Homo sapiens: one gene and its partners. The protein of the gene in region 2 interacts with the protein of the main gene of each other region in a biochemical or structural test. Each region holds a gene or a part of one and is shown on either strand. Other genes may lie near its edges.

The links.
Region 1: the proteins of COPA (region 2) and COPB2 form a complex in vitro, tested with the Homo sapiens proteins (one study listed by BioGRID).
Region 3: the proteins of COPA (region 2) and COPE form a complex in vitro, tested with the Homo sapiens proteins (3 studies listed by BioGRID, with this or other methods).

The regions. Positions count from the first base shown.
Region 1 is NC_000003.12:139,387,439-139,391,186, forward strand, and holds the start of COPB2 (coatomer subunit beta'), read right to left. Parts: upstream 2,210-3,748; 5' UTR 2,113-2,209; coding exon 2,110-2,112; exon of another isoform or gene 2,031-2,109; intron 927-2,030; exon of another isoform or gene 841-926; intron 1-840. UniProt on the Homo sapiens protein: The coatomer is a cytosolic protein complex that binds to dilysine motifs and reversibly associates with Golgi non-clathrin-coated vesicles, which further mediate biosynthetic protein transport from the ER, via the Golgi up to the trans Golgi network.
Region 2 is NC_000001.11:160,294,643-160,298,390, reverse strand, and holds part of COPA (coatomer subunit alpha), read left to right. Parts: intron 1-645; coding exon 646-835; intron 836-952; coding exon 953-1,048; intron 1,049-2,241; coding exon 2,242-2,330; intron 2,331-2,531; coding exon 2,532-2,655; intron 2,656-3,533; coding exon 3,534-3,623; intron 3,624-3,748. UniProt on the Homo sapiens protein: The coatomer is a cytosolic protein complex that binds to dilysine motifs and reversibly associates with Golgi non-clathrin-coated vesicles, which further mediate biosynthetic protein transport from the ER, via the Golgi up to the trans Golgi network.
Region 3 is NC_000019.10:18,898,945-18,902,466, forward strand, and holds the end of COPE (coatomer subunit epsilon), read right to left. Parts: intron 1,506-3,522; coding exon 1,437-1,505; intron 1,004-1,436; coding exon 929-1,003; intron 783-928; coding exon 735-782; 3' UTR 570-734; downstream 1-569. UniProt on the Homo sapiens protein: The coatomer is a cytosolic protein complex that binds to dilysine motifs and reversibly associates with Golgi non-clathrin-coated vesicles, which further mediate biosynthetic protein transport from the ER, via the Golgi up to the trans Golgi network.

The DNA of each region.
Region 1 (3,748 bases), on a different chromosome or scaffold from region 2:
CCAAAAGCTGGATGCATTTAGGACTCAGCTTAAATGCCACTGCCACCAGTAAGACCTTTCTAGTTACCCTAGCCTGAAGCATTCTTTCCTAGGGAATCCTATAGGATTTCATTTTAACTGTTCATGGTACACTTGTGTACACATCTTTTCTTGCTTTCTAGAGTAGATCCTCCTTAAAGCCAGGGTCATTGCTTATACATGTCTTTATCTCCAGATCACCTTATATATTTGAGTATGGGGGTTTAAGAACAGATACCATAACACAAGACTAGAAAGCCATGATGGATTTAAATTTCAGTTCCACCACTCATTTCAGATGTGCAATAGTGGGCAAATTTACTTAACCTCTTTCAAGTTTGACTTATGTAAAACAGGAATATTATTATTATCTACCTCTTAGTGCTGTAAGAATTAAATTCAGAGTTAGCCAGTTAGAGCAGTGCCTGACCTACAGTAACCACTTCACAAACATATAACTCTATCTCCCAGCTGCTGTGAGAATTAGGCAGCCATGTTTAGCAAAGTGCATGGCAGACACTAAATATTCTATGGTAAATGTACAAATGAATGAATTCACGTTTTGTATTTTCCACAAAGGATTTAAAATATATAAAGAATGAAGGCAATATTTCATTATAGAAATACACTGGTAAATGTAAAGACGGCAAAAGAAAATGAAATTAGGCAGATCCAAGAGCCTTTTCCAAAAACGTCCATTACTGCAACCACAGCAGACCCAAACTACATCAGGTAGTTAGTAATACGAAGTGCTCTAATTAAGAGGCTTGAGGTCTTGTTCAGGGACTGTAACCTGGGTGCCCAAGAAAGTCCACGGATAGTGCTAGCTTCGGCAGCACATAGAGAGGAGATTAGCGTGGCCCCTGCGCAAGTATGACACGCAAATCCGTGAAGCGTTCCATATTTTTTATAAAACAAATTAAAAAAAAAAAGAAGGTCCATGGATTGTGGGGGGGGGTGTCTGTGAATGAATGCACTGAATTTTATGCAAAAATGTTTGTTTCTCTGTGCATTTTCCCTGGGAGTATTCCTAACTTTTTCCTAGTTCCAACTTTGCCACAATTAACCTTGTAGAAACATAATTTAAAAAAATTTTTTAACTTAAGATGAGGGACTTAATCCCTAGCGTCTTCAAGCTCCAAAATGTTTGATTCTGTGCTTCATAACAAGTTTTTTTTTTTTTTTTTTTGAGACGGAGTCTTGCTCTGTCCCAGGCTGGAGTGCAGTGGTGCGACCTCGGCTCACTGCAGCCTCTGCCTCCCGGGTTCAAGCGATTCTCCTGCCTCAGCCTCCTGAGTAGCTGGGACTACAGGGGCCCGCCACCACGCCCGGCTAATTTCTTTTTTTTTTTTTTGCATTTTCAATAGAGACGGAAGATATTCTTATACTATCGTTTTCTTTCCTTATTATTATAACACTCTTGTGCAAACTAGTCTAGGGCGTTTTTTAGGGTTACGGTGATAATAACAAAGTGCTCTAACAATTACTATTCTTACCAGCCACTGGATTTGCAAATGCATAAAAGCACACCAGCCAGTGTTATAAACAGCACCCCCTTCCTCCCAACCCTTCTTCTCCCCTTAGAAACCTAACAGCTGAGATATCAAAGCATTTGAAATTCCATTTTTGACTCCATATACATTTGTTTTTGGCTTCTTTGCTTGTTTATAGTTTGTAGCCAGCACACACTATCCCCAGAATAAGCCCAACAGGAGTGTAGATTAACTACCACCGTTTTAAAGGCAAACTTTAGTTTTACCAAAGCCTCCTACGGAGTTCAACACATTCGGCTTCTGTGTTTCCCTACACCACCGATCCCGCTGCAGACTGCAGGAGCTCTGGCAAGCGCCACAAGCGCCAGGGGAGACAAAACCCCTCACTAGCAGGCTTTGCCTCCCCAAATCACCCCGGTCCCCTAGGCCCCACCGCCTTCTCCCTTCCTGGAATCAAACGACCAAGACCCCGCAAGGCCTGAGGCGGCGGCCGCAGCGGGAGCCCAGACCACTGCTTACCGCGGCCCTCAGTCCAGAAGCTCCAGGAATCGGCCGTAACCTATGGGACCCCGCTCCCTTCTACGGGATCTGGACCTACCATGGCTGCGTCGGTCCAATCCCGGGAACCCTCGTTTGTTACCGGCTACTCAGGCCTTGAGATAAACCCACCGATCCACTGACCGTCAGACTGACTGACGTGGAACTTCCGGGAGCCGATTCTCGCGATAGTCAGAGGCCAGGGCCGGAGCGCCTGCGCAAACTGCGCGCAGGGCCGTCGTTTCCCAAGCCCCGCCCCAGTTTCCTAGGCAACGTGGCCTTCCAGACCGCTGGTAGTGGACTTGAGGCTGTCGGGAAGGAGGGGTGTGGCCTAGACCACTAAGGGCCGTGACGTGGTGCCGCTGAGCTTGGACCCCGACCAGAAGATAGAGATTGAAACGATGAGGAAAACGAAGTGCCTAATCCCCGCTGGACGCTAACTGCAGGGCAAGCTCCCCAGTGTTGTAGTTGTGTTTCGGAGGCCGAGAACCGCTATCGGGCTTCCTCGGACTCTGGCCCTGGAGGGGGGAAACGGCGAGGGAGAAGGCGAAACGAGTCTCCAGTGTGTTCTTGGGGCCTGGTGCGAGGCCCAGAGAATTCTCTGCAGGCCTTTGCCCGGGCACTGATTAAGGCTGCGAAGAGACGCACCGGGCTGCGGGCTTAGTAGCTTCAGGCTTCTGAAGTCAGAGGGAGGGCTGAGAGCTTACACTTCTGGAGCTCCCCGGGAGACGGCAACTACCCAACCGTGTGGGTGTGTTTGTGTATGTGTCTTTTGTTGAGCTTCGGCTGGCTGTGTTATTCATTCAACAAATATTTATCGATCTTCGGCAGTGTGTCAGACATACCTTCTTCTCAAATCTTCACATCAAACCTGAATTATCTCCATTTAATGATGAGGAAACTCGGGCTCAAAGAAGTTAAGTGTTCTAGCCAAGACTGCATAGTAAGTGGCAGATAAAACCTCAAAGTTGGGCCGGGCGCGGTGGCTCACGCCTGTAATCCCAGCACTTTGGGAGGCCGAAACGGGTGGATCACCTGAGGTCAGGAGTTCGAGACCAGCCTGGCCAACATGGTGAAACCCCGTCTCTATTAAAAATACAAAATTAGCCTGGCGTGGTGGCGGGCGCCTGTAATCCAAGCTGTTCCAGAGGCTGACAGGAGAATCGCTTAGAACCCAGGAGGTGGAGGTTGCAGTGAGCTGAGATCGCGCCACTGCACTCCAGCCTGGGCAACAGAGCAAGACTCTGTCTCAAAACAAAACACCTCAAAGTTTGTGCTCTTTCTACTACATAAAAATATCTCTTCATTAATGTGGCTGAATTCTAAGGGCCTGTGCCATAGGGGTTACACTACACAATAAAGTTCGAGAACATTTGCCTGTCACACGCACTGCACATCTCCTGTATTTCCTTTTTTTTTTTTTTTTTAAGAAAACATGTGGACCATAGAAAACTTGCCCTCTGGTTACACGTACAAACGTGTATTTTTAACTTGAGAGAAATCTTAAAGTCTTTTCAGACCTCCAGATTTTCAGAAAGGCAAAAAGAAAAATTATGTATTTGTGTGTGTAGATAATGATAATCAGAGGGAGATGATTTTGCACGAAATTATTTGGCTTTAGTAGGAGCCTTGAGCTAATGTGACTCTCTTCATGGGCCTCAGTTTTCATCATCTTAAAAAAAATCCAGCTACATGGTTTC
Region 2 (3,748 bases):
CCCTGTGGATCTTCAAACCTGGCAGGTGGGAAGTAAGGTAGCTAAGCAAGAACTGGCTCTATGGAATCAGCAACTGCTAGGTGGTTTTGTTGTAAAAGTAAATTTCTGAGGAGGAGGAGGAGGATAATGCGATGTAATTATTTCCATCTCTGTATCCAAAGGGGTCCTATGTGTTCACTGGATTTTCTTTTTTTTTTTTTCTTTTTTTTGAGGCGGAGTCTCGCTCTTGTTGCCCAGGCTGGAGTGCAATGGCATGATCTCGGCTCACTGCAACCTCCGCCTCCTGGGTCCAAGCGATTCTCCTGCCTCAGCTTCCCGAGTAGGTGGGACTACAGGCGTGCACCATGATTCCCAGCTAATTTTTTTTGTATTTTTAGTAGAGACAGGGTTTCACCATGTTGGCCAGGATGGTCTCGAGCTCTTGACCTCGGGATCCGCCTGCCTTGGCCTCCCAAAGTGCTGGGATTACAGATGTGAGCCACCGCACCCAGCCGATTTTCAATGGAATTAGACTAAAAGCTAGGAGTAATTGAAAGTATAGGAAGTTCTTCAGGAAATCTATATAGATGCAGATGCTTTGCAGAGTCCTTGGTTTTGAGTCACATTGTCCTTCAACCTGTTAACACGACCCTGGGGATTCTTTAGATTGCTCTGGAAGCAGCCAAAGCACTGGATGACAAGAACTGCTGGGAAAAGCTGGGAGAAGTGGCCCTGCTGCAGGGGAACCACCAGATTGTGGAAATGTGCTATCAGCGTACCAAAAACTTTGACAAACTTTCCTTCCTGTATCTTATCACTGGCAACTTAGAAAAACTTCGCAAGATGATGAAGATTGGTGAGGCCCTCAAACTAAGGATGGGAAGAGGGGTTCTTGGGGGAAGGAGGAAGGTGAATTAAGGAGAAAGAGAACTTAAGAGAAAAGACCTAACTTGGTGTCTCTTACTTGGTGCAGCTGAGATCAGAAAGGACATGAGTGGCCACTATCAGAATGCCCTATACCTGGGTGATGTGTCAGAGCGTGTGCGGATCCTGAAGAACTGTGGACAGAGTAAGTATCCGAGACTTGCCAGCTTTTTCAGGGTCTGAGGAAGTATTTTTCTGTTTTTGTTGAGTTAATCTGTGTATAGTGGTGAGGGATTTCTCTTTATTGTGCATTTTTTTAGGAGAGACAACATGCTCCTACTGTGCTTAGAAGATTTTCTTCAAAGCCAAAGGGAGGTGCAGCCAGAATATTCAGTCCAGCCAAACACCCTTAGGAGAATAGTTATTCATGGGGGAGATAGGAGGTTTTAAAAGGTCTTGAGTGGACGCCCTAGTAAATGCACTTGGTTGGATGCCATTAGAATTTTATTCTTTATTTTCAGTTTGGAGGTTTCACTCATTTATTCATGTATATAGTCAAGGGATATTTTTTGAGAACCCACTATATACCAAGCATTATATTAGCATTTAAGATACATTAGGAAACAAGCAAGGTGAAAGATGAGGTTTGGACCAAGGCGCTATTAGTGGAGGGGTGAGCAGTGGTCAGATTCAGGATATATTTTAAGGTAGAAACAACATGATTTATTGCGGTAACTAGATTTGAGATGTAACAGAGAGGAGTCAGGGATATCCAAGGTTCTCAGCACGGATGGATACGTCTCAAAGATAAGCAGCTATATTAGTTCTCTATTTCTGTGTAACAAATTATCCCCAAATTTAGTAGTTTAAAACCACAAACATTTATTATTTCACAATTTGTGGCATGGCTTAGCTAGGTGCCTCCGGCTTAGGATCTCTCATGAGGCTACAGTCAAAGTGTTGGCCAGAACTGCAGATATCTGAAGACTCACCGGGGAGAGAATCTACTTCTGCACTCACTCAATGGCCATTGGCAGCCCCCATGTCCTTGCTCCCTGTTGTCTAAGAAACATCACTTTCTTTTCGTGTTGACCTCTCCATAGGAGTTTGTAACGTGGTAGCTAGTTTCCCTTACAGCAAGTGAGCAAAAGAGGGCACCCCAAGATAGAAGCCACAATCTTTGTAACCAGATCTAGGAAGTAACATCCCATCACATCTGCCATGTTCCATCCATTAGAAGCTATTTAATAAATCCAGCCCACACTTAAGAGGTGGGTATTTTGCAACAACTTGAATACCAGGAGTCAGGGATTACTGGGGGGCCATTTCAGAGGTTGCTTACCACAGCAGCATGCATTTGGAAATGTACCTATACCACAAAGTCTGTTTTCTCTACAGAGTCCCTGGCCTATCTCACAGCTGCTACCCATGGCTTAGATGAAGAAGCTGAGAGCCTAAAGGAGACATTTGACCCAGAGAAGGAGACAGTGAGTCTTTATTTACATAATTGTCTCTTATTACAGGATTAACTCTAGGATCTTAGAACAATTTAAAATTATGAATGTCACTCTCCCACCTGGTTACCAGGAGAGGCAGAGAAACAAATGAGATCAAAGGAGGCTCCATAACTTTCCTTACGTGACTTCCAAGTGCTATTTGTTTTTAGCCTCTTTTCTTCTACTATTCAGATCCCAGACATTGACCCTAATGCCAAGCTGCTCCAGCCACCTGCACCTATCATGCCATTGGATACCAATTGGCCTTTATTGACTGTATCCAAAGGATTTTTTGAAGGCACCATTGCCAGCAAAGGTAAGTACCTATTTCTCCCATAGCACTTTTGTTGTTTGTTTTGTGAAGAACTGTCCTAGAGAATACCATTAGCATTTAGTTTAACTTGTCCTTTTTTTCTGCATGGAGCCTAATGGAATATTGAAATGCCAGTCATTTATGGTGCAGTCTTAAAAACTTAAGATAGCATTTTCAGGTCATTAAAGAAAATTTGGAAAATAGGGAGAAAAAAAGGGATCCCTCTACTACCATCAATAACTTCGGTTAATATTTTGGTGTATTTTCTTAGGTTTTACTATATATGTAGTCATGTTCTTTGTTCAGTATTTTATCATTCATGACATACAATCTTAAAGGTACTAATTCAACTACCTGTAATTCCGGTATGTGGGTATAGGCAGATGTGTGCTATCACCCTCCACCACTTCCACCCTTAACCTCCTCCTGTTTTCTGGGTCTCCTAGTTCATTTCCCGTGAGTAAGAGCCTAAACAGACTCTTGAGCATTTTGTGCCAAACCCCACTCTTTTCTCCACCTCCTCTATCTACCCTATGCCTGATGCCCTGTACACATTGTAGTGGTGGTAGCTTAGCAAAGCGCTCAGGAAGAAATTCAAGAGTTGGTAGCCAAAGGCTGGTAAGTACAAATTATTTAAGAGCCAGTTTTTGGTAGCAGGAAGGCCAGTTCCTTCCATCTGTCTTCTATTCCCTCCCTCTGTGAAAGCTACTGCAAGTTAGCATAACATATATACCACAAAAATAAATAATACACAAAAATAAATAGTAAGTAGGCAGAAGCTTGGCACCTGTTTTTGAAAGGATTTAACCTGCCTACAGAAAAGGCCGTATCTCAGACTTGCTGGACTATAACCAGTTCCGTTCTGTTCCTTCCCTCTGTAGGGAAGGGAGGAGCACTGGCTGCTGACATTGACATTGACACTGTTGGTACAGAGGGCTGGGGAGAGGATGCAGAGCTGCAGTTGGATGAAGGTAAAAGTGCTGTTTTAAGACTGTTCTGGGGTGATGGACACCTTGGATTGGGACTGGGTTGTGGGTAGCTCTGCAGACTTCCAGGCCATGAAACGAACTAGGATTGATTTTACTTCCTTTGGCTA
Region 3 (3,522 bases), on a different chromosome or scaffold from region 2:
AATGGTGACATCTGGGAGGCTCCGGCCAGCCCTGCTGCCACCCACCCACCTCCCTCCCTAAATGGTGCGGCCGCCTCTCATCGCGGCTGGGTGCTTGGCCCCAGGACCCTGCCACAGCAGGACTCTGCCTTGGAGGAGGGTTTGCGGGGCGGCAGGAGCAGCACCTGGGGTTAACGCTGACCCTGCAGGGCCCCTCCGGCTTTGCTGAGCTGAGGCCTGAGTTTTTCCTGCCCTGGCCCCCACTTCCTCCAGGCCACTAGGGGTTCTCATTTTGAATCTTGGTGCCCCTCATGATAGCGGCATGACTTCTCTGTGCCTCAGTTTCCCCCGATGCCAACCAGGGCTGCTCAGTGGCCTCTAGGGGCCAGGGTGAAGCATGGGGACAGGGCTGTGCTGCCTCTGGCCTGCAGGAGCAGGTTGTGGCTGTGTGAGGGGCGGGGTGGGGGTCTGCACACCTGCTGCTCGTCACAGACCCTGGTCTCCAGGAACAGCCCTGGATGCCAGTGCCCCAGGACTCTCCCTGAGCGTCAGCTCCCACACGCCCCCAGCAAAGTGACCAGAGCACATCATCAGGTGGAACACCCTGGAGTTGAGATATTTATTAACAGATGGGGGTGCTGGGGGTGGGCTCCTGCCCCCAGAGGGGATGCAGGTGGATGCCGGGTGGGGAGGGCTGCAGGGCTGGCTCCTGGCCTCTGTCCTGGCTTCATGGTCCTGACAGCTCTGGGCCAGCCTCAGGCGCTGGGAGCGTACTGTAGCACCAGCCTGTCAAAGTCGTTCTCCTTTAGCAAGACACATGGCAACACAGGGTGGGGGCAGGGTGTGGGGAGACAGGTGGAGGGAGAGAGAGAGGGCGCATGTGAGCCCAGGCTGAGCTCCAGGCGCCCCCTGGCCTGGTTCTCGGGGACAGGCCATCCCCACCACTCACCTTGGCCTGGTACTCCTTGATGAAGGGATGGGACCTGTGGGCATCCTTCAGCTGGGACAGGTATCGGTTTGTCACCTGCAGGGGAGGCAGGGAGGCAGGTGAGCCGAACACGGGGACCCCACGGTGGCTCTGACCTGCTGGACAGGGGTGGATTGGGGTGAGAGCCACAGTACCCCAGGGGGCTCCTCACCCTGCCTTGGGACTGGGCTGATCTCGGAGAACCTTCAGGGTGGGGGTGGAGGGATGGGCCTGCCCCCTGGAGAGGCGCTGGCATGGAGCTGGCCTCCGTACATGGTGGGGGATGTATTGTGGTGTTCAGGGGAGCAGGTCGGGCAGGGCCCCAGGTGAGGATGGGTTGGGGGGCACAGGGTTTGTGAGGGAGGTGGGCTGCGGTAGGCATACTGTATACAGAGTTTTCCCAGGGGCCTAGGGATTAGGGCCTGGACCCCAGGCTGGGGTCCCAGGGTCTGGACATTAGGGTTGGCCTGGAGCCCTGGGGGCCGCTTACCTCAGGGGGCTTGCCCAGGTGCTGGGACAGGACGATGAGGTTGACCAGCGTCTCTGGGTAGCCACTATCCTGGAGACACAGGCAGACACGGGGAGGCAGGGTCAGCCACTCCAGCCCCCATGCCTGCCCGTCACCCCCACCTCAGGCAGCACCACACAAGGTCACCTCCTCAGAGGTGGGGTGGGACTGACACCGCCCACCGCTCTGCAAGGTGGAGATCTCAGATGATACGGTGCCAAGGGGCCAGCCGCCTCGCTGAGCCTCAGTTTCCCCATCTGTAGTCCAGCCTGGGGTACGACCCCTTGTTTACAGAGACTTGGGAAGGTTGTATTTGTCCCACACATCTCAAAGCCATGGGGCCCAGACCCAGATGGCCTCAACTCCTGCTGTACAACGAACCCCGAGGCCATGGGCAGACCTGCCACCCCTGCACCAGCTCCCAAGGAGCCTTGAAGGAGACCTCGGCAGGGGACCTTGCCTGACTCACTCACTCTAGGCTCCCAGCACACAGGACCCTAGGAAACATCTAGGCCAGGAGACCCAGCCAGAGCCCTGGTGTCTGCTTGGAGCACAGACACACCAACGAGGATGCGCCCAGAGCCCGACCTGCCCACGGCGGCCCATGGCAGGGCACCTTTTTGCAGACCGGACTTTTCTGAGCCTCAGTCTCCACCATGAAGGGGGACACCAGCTTGCGCTCACAGGAGCAGCCATGAGGTGGCTCCAAAGGGAAGTGGGGGGACCTGAGTGCCTCCCAAAACCCAGCAAGAATGCAGGGTGACCACAGCCACGGGGAGGCCACCAGGGCCAAGGGGCACGGCCAGCCAGCCCCAGGTGGTGTTTCAAGAGACAAGGACAGAAGGGAGTCATCTAACTGGTGAGTCACGGAACGTGTCACCTGAGAGGTGTAACAAAAGCCCCCAGAGGATGCGGCCATGAACACAACATGCATCCAAGTGTTCTCAGGTGGCAGGGAGGGGCAGGGTGGTGGAGGAGGGCGCCAGTCTTGCCCCTGGGGCAGCGAGGGACACACAGCCTGTCTGAGATTGCACATCAGGCTGGGAGTTCCTGACTAGCCCTGACTGCTCAGAGCTAAAGATGGACCCTGCTCAGGAGGAGCAGTACCCGGCCTGTGATGGGGCCAGCCTGATACCCCTTGGCCAGCCCCGCTCTGCAAACAACTTTCTGATGATAACTCAGCCCCTGGAAAGTCAGACAGGGAGGAGGGCTTCACCAGTGTTTGTCACTAGATTAAAACTGTTTCTCAGCTGGGCGCACTGGCGCATGTCTATCATCCCAGCACTTTAGAAGGCCAAGGAGGGTGAGAATTGTTTGAGCCCAGGAGTTCAAGACTAACCTGGACAACACAGTGAGACCCCATTTCTAACAAAAAATACAAAAATTAGCCACGCATGGTGGCATACCGTTTCAAAAAACAAACAAAAAACCCCCCAAAATTCGTTTCTCCAAAATGGAAAAAGCTTTGATGTCCTTTCTGATTATAAAAATAATAATCCAGGCTGGGCACAGTGGCTCACGCCTGTAATCCAGTACTTTGGGAGTCCAAGGTGGGCAGCATCATGAGGTCAGGAGATTGAGACCATCCTGGCTAACACAGCAAAACCCCATCTCTACTAAAAATACAAAAAATTAGCTGGGCATGGTGGTGGGCGCCTGTAGTCCCAGCTACTCGGGAGGCTGAGGCAGGAGAATGGCATGAACCCAGGAGGCAGAGCTTGCAGTGAGCCGAGATCACACCACTGCACTCCAGCCTGGGCGACAGAGCAAGACTCCATCTCAAAAAAAAAAAAAAAAAAAATCCACCAAGCATGGTGGCTCACACCTATAATCCTAATGCTTTGGGAGGCTGAGGTGGGACGATCACTTGAGGCCAGGAGTTCGAGACCAACCTGGGCAACACAGCAAGAACAACCCCGTCTTTACAAAATATATATATATTTTTAATTTAACATAACATAAACTCTTCATAAAGACTGCAGATGGCCAGGCGTGGTGGCTCACGCCTATAATCCCAGCACTTTGGGAGGCTGAGGCGGGTGGATCACCTGAGGTCAGGAGTTTGAGA